Linked DNA regions of Homo sapiens: region 2 is reported to be linked to region 1. The links are microRNA targets in miRTarBase. Many come from high-throughput screens and were not tested one by one. Region 1 holds a microRNA gene; the other region holds the end of a gene's coding sequence.
The links. Region 1 holds the annotated microRNA hsa-miR-218-2-3p (CAUGGUUCUGUCAAGCACCGCG, at 2,621-2,642, shown strand). A microRNA usually pairs through its seed, bases 2 to 8, with sites in the 3' UTR of a target mRNA and lowers its output. Matches are read on the target gene's strand: a 7mer-m8 pairs with bases 2 to 8, a 7mer-A1 pairs with bases 2 to 7 and ends in A, and an 8mer does both.

Region 2: the mRNA of KLF3 is a reported target of hsa-miR-218-2-3p. Seed matches in the 3' UTR shown: 7mer-m8 at 2,617-2,623 and 7mer-A1 at 48-54.

The regions. Positions count from the first base shown.
Region 1 is chr5:168,766,250-168,770,809 of GRCh38, reverse strand. It overlaps MIR218-2 (microRNA 218-2), which reads left to right and starts at 2,555; the gene lies at 2,555-2,664. All of the region lies in intron 14 of SLIT3 (slit guidance ligand 3), which reads left to right.
Region 2 is chr4:38,696,733-38,700,732 of GRCh38, reverse strand. It overlaps KLF3 (KLF transcription factor 3), which reads right to left. Exons shown (of 6, transcript NM_016531.6): 6 at 1-3,651. The coding sequence ends at 3,470. Among named protein-coding and RNA genes, the nearest start is that of KLF3-AS1, 34 kb to the right of the region's middle.

The DNA.
Region 1 (4,560 bases):
TAGCTCTGCCACTATCGTCCTACCTGTAGATCTGCAGGATCCTGGCTGCTTTTCCTATGTGGGGGAGGGGAAGCTGAACATTTTAAAAAAGAAACAGGGAGAAGGAGCCAGGTTCTTGGATTGACTCTAAGATACCTTTTTTAAAAAAAAAAACAATGCTAAGCGAAAGATTATTCCTAAAAAGTAGAGATGTTTGGAGCTAGCATGAGACTGACACGTAGCACTCTATTTGCTTTTATTTTATGTCATTGCAAAGAAAGCATGACTGCTGAGCTCCAAAGGCCTTGGCTTTGAGAAACATGGGGTTCCAGACCTGCCTTGGCCTTGGAGGGAAAGAAAAACCATAGATGTAAAGCTCTGTGTTTCCAGGAAGCTCCAGAAGAAAGAAGGGGGGCAGGTGACACAGACTGGATGTGACAGATAATAACTCTGCGTTTTACTTTTTCCTAAAAGCACCCCCATTGAAAAGACAGCTGATGTAATTAGGAGGCAATTTGAGGGCTGCTCCGTAACACATCCTGCCCCTCCTTAGGCAGGGCGTCTGGTTTCCCAGCTGCCTGTGTCTGCCTCTCTCTATCAGCTGCATCCGCCGCCTTGGGCAGCAAGATCAGTTTAGGGTTGGATGCTGCCGGCTGGGGTAATCTGACCATCAGATTAAGTCCTCCTGAAAAGGCTCCGTCTGGCTGCCTGGGACCCCAAGCCCATCCCTGGGAGCACTTGGCAGTTGCAGGGTGCTGTCTGTCTTCCTTCATGCCTCCCCGCTTTGTGTGAGAAGAAACTCTCTTGCTGAAAAGTACAGAGGGTGGTGACGCAAAGTGTCCAAAGACGGCGAACAGCAAGATAGCTCTCAAGGAATTACAGAACTTTTAGAAACCTTAGAGGTCATCCAGTTTATTCTAGAGATGGATAAATTGAGGTCCACACAGCAGAAAAATCTTATCTAAGGTATTGAGTATTATTTTTAGGGCAAGATCTGAAACCCAGGACTTCTGACATACTGTGAAGACTCTTGATAATTTACCTACAAATCCCTCCATTTCTTTTTGTAGGAAGAAACCAAAGAGAAAGAAAATTAGATTTTAAGGCTTGGTGAGGGTGGCGGTTTGCACGAACAGGATGGATTTCCCCTGCTCTTGTACCAGGGTCCTAATCAAACTCACATTTGAAGTCCCAGAACCACAGTGTTCACAGAGCCCTGCATAGGTGTCAAAGCAGAGTGGAGTCCAGATTCTAGTGGCTGACTCTAGTGCGTGTGATGAGAGACCTTAGGAAGGAGGAGAGGCCAGACAGACCCAGAGCTGTGGGCTGGCTCTTCCTAACTGGTCCAACATGGCAGACAACCTATGCACCGTTGAGATGCTGAGACCATCTAGAGGATATGCCCAGTCCCAAAAACACATAGTGGAAGAATGTTGATACTGGTTCTCATGTCAGAGGTCAGGCAGGGAGGGTCTCAGTCACTTAGCCTTAGCTCCAGTTTCTTCAAGATGCACATCTCCAGCCTAATGCCAAGTGGGAGGAAGTCCCAAGTCAGCAGGTTCATGGAAACTGACCCTGATCTATCACAGAGAGGAATATAAAAACTGGGTACCCTCACCTGGGCCTTTGGCATCCTGACAGTGGTTATTGGTTCATCCTGTTCGCTCCCATAATTTCCAGCTAAGGAAGAGAACAAGAAATCAAGAAGGACCCCAGAATTCAGTGTCTTCCCCTCAGACTCATCACTTGGCTTCCCTTTCCTTCCTTCTCTTAGTCTCAAAGAGGCCCTTCATCAGGAGGCGCACTGGCCACCATCTCTGTGAAAGTCAGTGTTCTCAAACAACAACTATGATTGCAGGTTCCTCAGTCCAAACCCTACGGCCCCATTTGTTTTCCTGTCTTTCTCTCTGGCTAGAGAGATATATTTTCTTTTGACACCCCACTGCTCCTCTATTAAACCTCAAATGATCTGGGATGAGTGTCTATCAGCCAGAGCATTCCTGCTGACCTCAAAGGATATAAAGGAGACTCCTGAATTGTGGAATGTCAAAGGGGGCTTTTTCCTAAAGAACAGCATTGAAGGTTTGCTAGACCACTGGGAACTGTGGATTGTCTCTTGACTTAAGGGGCTAGAGGAATGACTGTGATGGAACCACTCAGCTGTTGGGGGGATTGGGCCTATGTTGCAAAGCATGCAGAAGATGCTTTTCTAAGTTTAATGTCTTGTCAGACCAACTGGTGTGACTGAATGGAGTTTAGAGGCTCAATTCAGGCATGTGATAGGATCACAGATGTCTGAGTGTTCTTTCTTTCCTTGGGAAGGAACCATGCTGTCCTGAAGCTCCCGAGTATGGGCATCCAGTGATTTCCCTCCCGTTCTTCTCCCTTCCTACTGTGTCTCCCTGGGGTGGGGCACAAGGGCAGCAGGGCTGCAATCTTCGGAAGTGTTCCAGTGGAACCCCACTCCTGATACTAATCACGCTCAGTGGGGGCCTGCTCCGGCTTCCGCTTCTCCACGCTGCTTCCTCTGAGCGCTCCTGTCCTCTCTCTGACGCTGCTTCCTGACCTTGACTCTGACCAGTCGCTGCGGGGCTTTCCTTTGTGCTTGATCTAACCATGTGGTGGAACGATGGAAACGGAACATGGTTCTGTCAAGCACCGCGGAAAGCACCGTGCTCTCCTGCAGCATGGCCCGCCACCGCCGCCACCACCGCTGGACACCTCTCCTCTGCTCTGGAGCACCGCAGCCCACCACCTGCCAGACCCACCTCTCCCAGTCTCAACTCACCAAAGGCAGGAGGGTAGGAGTCTCAAAGGATGCAGATACAGAGGGAAATGGGTCTGGAGAAGCACCCTGGGGAAAGAGATCTGTATCCACATCTCTTTCCCAAAATGGAGTCACCCTCCCCCAAATCTAGTCTGGATGTCAGACAAGGAGTAATAACTAGGTTCAAGCTCAGAAACTACTGTGTCTCTTCTTCCACTGGAAGGGAACAAGTATACCCAAGGCATACGCCCCATGGTTTCATGGGAGAGTCCCAACCCAAGGTCATTTTTCCAAGTGGCAGCTAACCCAAAGGGGAATTCCTACTGCTTGTGACCCCCGACCCCTCCCACCACCACCTTTATTGGTATTCACTTTATTTGAAATGAACGTCAGCATGAGAATGGGTGAAACTCATGTGAGTCTGAGACTTTGGGTTTAACCCAAGGTTCCTTCTGAACCTCATTCCCATACTTTATGAAAACACAGTCCCTGAACCCCATGAAACCTAAAGTCCAGTCTGTTTCCTTGACCTGCAAAGCACAGTTAACGTGGAGGTGCTGGGCTCCTCACCTGGTGCTAATTCTGTTTCAGGGGAGGGGAGTGTGTGTGGACGTGGAAACCTGCTATCTCTGATAATAAAGAGAGGGATCTTGGTACCTCTTATTTTGCTTGTTCCTTGATAAATCCTAGACCCAGTGTAACCAGAAGACTGTGTTGTTCATTCCTGTCCTGGAGTCTTTGTCCTATTCTGCAAGAGAGAGCTAAGGTGGGAACTTTAGCCTAGCTCAGAACTAGAAGCTGAGCCCTGGGCCCCCATCATGAGGTGTGACTCTTATTACCTCGTCTATCTGAGGTTACCCCTCAGAACCAGGAGCCCAACCATTGCTTAGTAGTTTTTTAACATACATTGAGTGCTTGCTATAGGCCAGGCAGTGAACTGTTTTCACATCATTACCTTGTTTAATGTTCACAAAATCTAAAGTCCCACTTTACAGATGAGGATATTGAGGCTCAGAGAGGTTAGCTAACTTACCCAGGGTCATCTGATTCCAGAATGGCTGCACTGTACTGCTGTAATACCCACCTTCCCAGCTGTGGACAACCCCATTGCCTTGAATTAGAACATTTAAAAACTGTGATTTGATAGGGACTTGAAATTTGCTTAAACTCTCCCTTTCAGACTTTCATCTGTTAGTAGAAAGAACTTGAGTAAGAGAGAAAGCATTATTCAAATGGCTGTTCCTCTCCAGCATGGACATACAAAGATCCCATTTAACACAGAGCAAATCCTCGAGCCTGGAGAAGTTCCCTTTCCCACCTTACAGAGAGGGGCATTCTGAGGCCCTCGGCACTGCCCCTAACATGGCAGGGACCAGGCCTCTGGGAGTGGGTCCATAATGGTGCCCTTCCATCAGTGCTTTACTGGCCCCGCAGCCACAGGCTGTGATGAGGCAGTGCCAGCCTCAGACCATGGGTATTTCCCTCTGTTTTCAGGCAGATGGCTGCACTCATAATAGACTCCAAAGGGGATAGCTTACTAGGACGGCTCCCTGCCCAACTGGTGACCAAACTCCTAGTAAAACAGTTGGCATCTTCCAGCCACTGGCAGCTGGTCCCCCAGCCTTGCCCATGAGTGGATGTCTGTGTGCCTGGCAGTGTTCTCCTTAGTCATTCATCACTTATGACCCTTTGCTTATTCACATCACTGTCTTTTCAAGCTGATGAGGCCTGACAGGACTTACGCTCCCCCCAATTCCTCTTTCTGCTTCTTTCCTCCTTTCTTTTATTCCACTCATCTTAGGGATATTGGGAAT
Region 2 (4,000 bases), not on the chromosome of region 1:
CAAGTATTAAAGTACTGTAAATGTAATAATCCTGCTATATTTGCAGGTATGGTTTAAGAGATGCTAAGCAGAAAGATTATTTTGACCCTCTAACACTAAGTACATAACAGAAAAAAAAGTGCTAGTATTTGTAAAACAATATTGTTGTAGCCCTCGTTTAATGCATGTAAAGATGGCTTTGTAAATGTATTGTTTAGGTGAATTTGCGATCATTTAGCAATTGTTAACCTTGACCAAGAAGAGAATAAAGACAGCTCGGAGCAACTTCATGTATGACAGCAATTCCTTCAAGACAACTGTATATTTTCAAACCAAATTATTTTAAAACCTTAGATCTTTCAGATTGTCTTTACAACAATCTAATCAGGAATGATGCGCATATATACAGTATCAGCAAAATAGTCTTTCAAATTCCACATTAGTGCAATACTGATAGTGCAGATGGGTGTTTAATAAAATATACATATACATATATAGTTCCCCTGTAATTCTGTTCCAAGGCTCTTGAAACTTCTGTGTATTTAGCATCTCCCTAGTTGAATATAGCTATGCTGCTAACACATTCTCCAAACCAAGCAATTTAGAATGTTAATGCCCATTTATGATGTAGATTCACATAACTCTAAAATACGATGGATTCTGATTCTTCTGACTTCTCTAGGATGACACTTGGGTAACAACTGAAGAAACTCTATAACAAACAGAATTTACGTAATAGTAACTTCATGTTTACAAATCATTCTCATCAATTTAAAATATTGCGATTGAAATCACCATTGATAGTAACATGACACACATCATTAAAACATGTTCAAGGGCATCTAATCTTGTATTTGAGGTCTTCCACAATAACAGCTAAAAATGACTAAGAGGCTAAATTTCTCAACTATCATAGTAAAATACAAATATATATATAAGAAAAGTTTGGTAAGGGCCAATTGGTAATGAAAGCGTATTGACCAGCATGGGAATAGAGAATGGCCGCTCTGGGTTGCTTTTGTTCAGAGTTAAAACGGATCTTTGTTAAATGAACTGTTAACACAATCTAAGCAAGCTGAACAGTAATGTTAAGAGTCTTTGCAAGGTCTTGCTTCAAATCTTTTGAACAAAATTTAAATATGCCACAGCAAATGCATCAATTCCATGAGATGCCCATGAGGCTATTCACTGAACTCAGGCTCAAAGCTGATCCCAGATCAATCTGATCCTTTCTCGCCCTTTCCCCCACTTCTCTATGGATTGGAACACACATAAACTGGTTACCTCGGTCAAAACAAAAAGATTTTCCTTGCGTTCCATCTTGATTCTTGTGTGTTGTGAAAGAACCATCTCAAGAAATGAACACTTTGCCATGAATATGACTAAGCATTTACAATACAGACAATATCTACTTTTCAAAGAGCCATTTTATCACTCAATTCATGTCATAGTTGCAAAAAAGAAAAACTTCAGCTGAAAAAAAAATTATCTTTGCCTTTAGCTGAAAAACAAAACAAAACAAAAAAACAGCCCAATTAGGATGTTTTAGTATCCTAAAGAAGTTTTGCAGTGCTTTAAAAAAAGGAAAATCAAACCCAAGTGCCAAGATAACACATTTCTTTGCATTTCTTAACTACATTTCTTTACAGCTGGTTCACAGGGCGGATGAGTGGGACCTCTTAGCCTCTTAGGTGCACAGTCCCTACAACTTTTATTAACACAGTGCCATCAAAGCAAGCTCCCCACACAATTCACAGGCCTCCGGAATCACTCATTCACAGATGTTTTAAAAATGATCAAACAATGTATTCCTCCCAGTTAAAGTTGTGTTGGATCCTGAGTTGCGGCTGGGATGAATCTTCAGGATTTCATTCTTCTCTCTTCTCCTCCATTCTTGATGAAGGGGAATTTGGTTATATGCACCCACATTTAACTACTGTTGCTCACTTTCTTCAAATTCAGGACCAATGACATTTCTATGTATGAATTATTTTTATTGGCATTTAGACTATGGTGCTCAAAAGCCTGCTTTTGAATAACTTCCCCCAATAATGGTGCTATTTATCTTCAACATAAACACGAGCCATTATTTTCAGTTTGTTCTGACACTGAAATAGTGATAGGAAATTGCCAACTCTAACAGTAAACTTTTGGGAATTTTTGAGCTACATATATGAATCCCTGATCTGTGGTTTTCTATATTTTCTCATAAATTCCCAAAATAAAGGTATGTGTGCTTCACAACTAGTTATATTTACAAATAGTGTCACTCAGGTCTTAATTGAATCAATCCATTAAAGCATTAGCAGATGCTTTATGGTATGTGTCATGAATACAAATGACAGCCAATTTGGCACCTTAACAGCTCACACAGGAAGAGTTTCTGTATAAAAGCTATGTGATTAATTTGATAAGGGAATACAAGTACCACTCAACATTTCCCTGTTTACAAAAAAAGCTATAAGCAGATTGGGTAAAAGAAGAACCATCCATACTCTTACCCGAAAGATTTCTTACCATTACTGGGCAAATATTCCATGGAGTCCCTACTATCAATGTTTGATGATCTCATATTAAGGACATTGTAGGAATGGAGATAGTTGCATGGATAACCCCATCGGTATATGGCTTTGCAGCATGGTTCTACAAAGCTGAGTATGCACAGAGACTGAAGCTCTGGGAATGCTGCACACAGCTAACAAAATGTTGAAACCTCACTGACAACCCCTAGCCCAGGAGGAATTGCCTCTTCTGCTCCCCCTGCTAAATGGCCCTCTCCTCCGACTCCATGCTATGAAAACACAGCACCCTTCCCTTGAACTGCTACACATCACCCACCTAGATCGAAAGTTTGGGCTCATCTCCCATTGGTGGCAAAGACCTCCATATGAGCTGCAGGCACAAAGGAGGGCAAAGAACTCGATTCAGATGAAGTCTAAGATCCAGGTTGACAAGATTTGTGAAGAATGACGGAAGAGGTGACTGCACTAGCTTGAAATCTGGCTGTACTTCTAGCTAACCGGTGCAAGGGGCCACACTTGTTTTCACTGTCAAGCATAAAATATTATCACAGGGCAGAGGTAAGAATGTCTCTGGCAAGGACTAGCAGTCTGGATACTGTATTTCTAATACATTTACTCTGACATTCTTTTGAGGAATACATGGAGAACTGACAATTGGTTATGTTAGTTTACATGTTCCCTTGTTCTTATTACATTAAACGTATCTGTAAGAAGGGTTTGCTTAGCATCCCCAGAAAAAAAAAAAAAAGTGTTCACATTCTTTAGGTCTGACCCGTGGTAAGGAGAGGGAGGATTAGAGAACATCTACTACTGACCATATGGAAGTTTTGGATGATATAAATTCAGAGATTCAGACCAGCTGAATCAAATTAAAATGTACATGTAAAAAATGTGTTAGATAATGGGAGGCAGGACAGAGAGAGAGCCAGGTGAGTGGGGAGTCACGCTGAGGCAGGACACAGAGGCAATCAGACTAGCATGTGGCGTTTCCTATGGAGGGCAAGATGGTCAGAACGGGAGAAGCTGCGGTCACAGTCCGGGCACTGGAAAGGTTTGATTCCAGTATGTTTTCGGAAATGTCTTGTTAGTTCATCAGACCGAGCAAACTTCCATGTGCACCCTTCCCATGTACATTTGTAGGGTTTTTCTCCTGCAAAAGGAAAAAGAAAAGAGCTATTTTTTTTTTCTGTAAAGGTAGTAAAGATCTTTGAGTTAATGCTTGACAAATATTATTTCCAAGATATGTTCATACATTTGTTCTTCAATAACACAGTGCATTATAAACTACTGCAAGACAAGCAAGAAGAAAATGAACTAATACCGTAATGTTTCATTGGCTCTCTGCCAAAAAAACGGGAGGAGAATTTTAAGAGTTCTTAAAACACAGAGTCACTGAAATCCATTCTGAGGGACTACCAAATAGTGAATGAACACATGGTGATCTGTATTTGCACATCTCCCAAATCTTAAACCTGCTTGGGAGCTTAATTATATGCAGT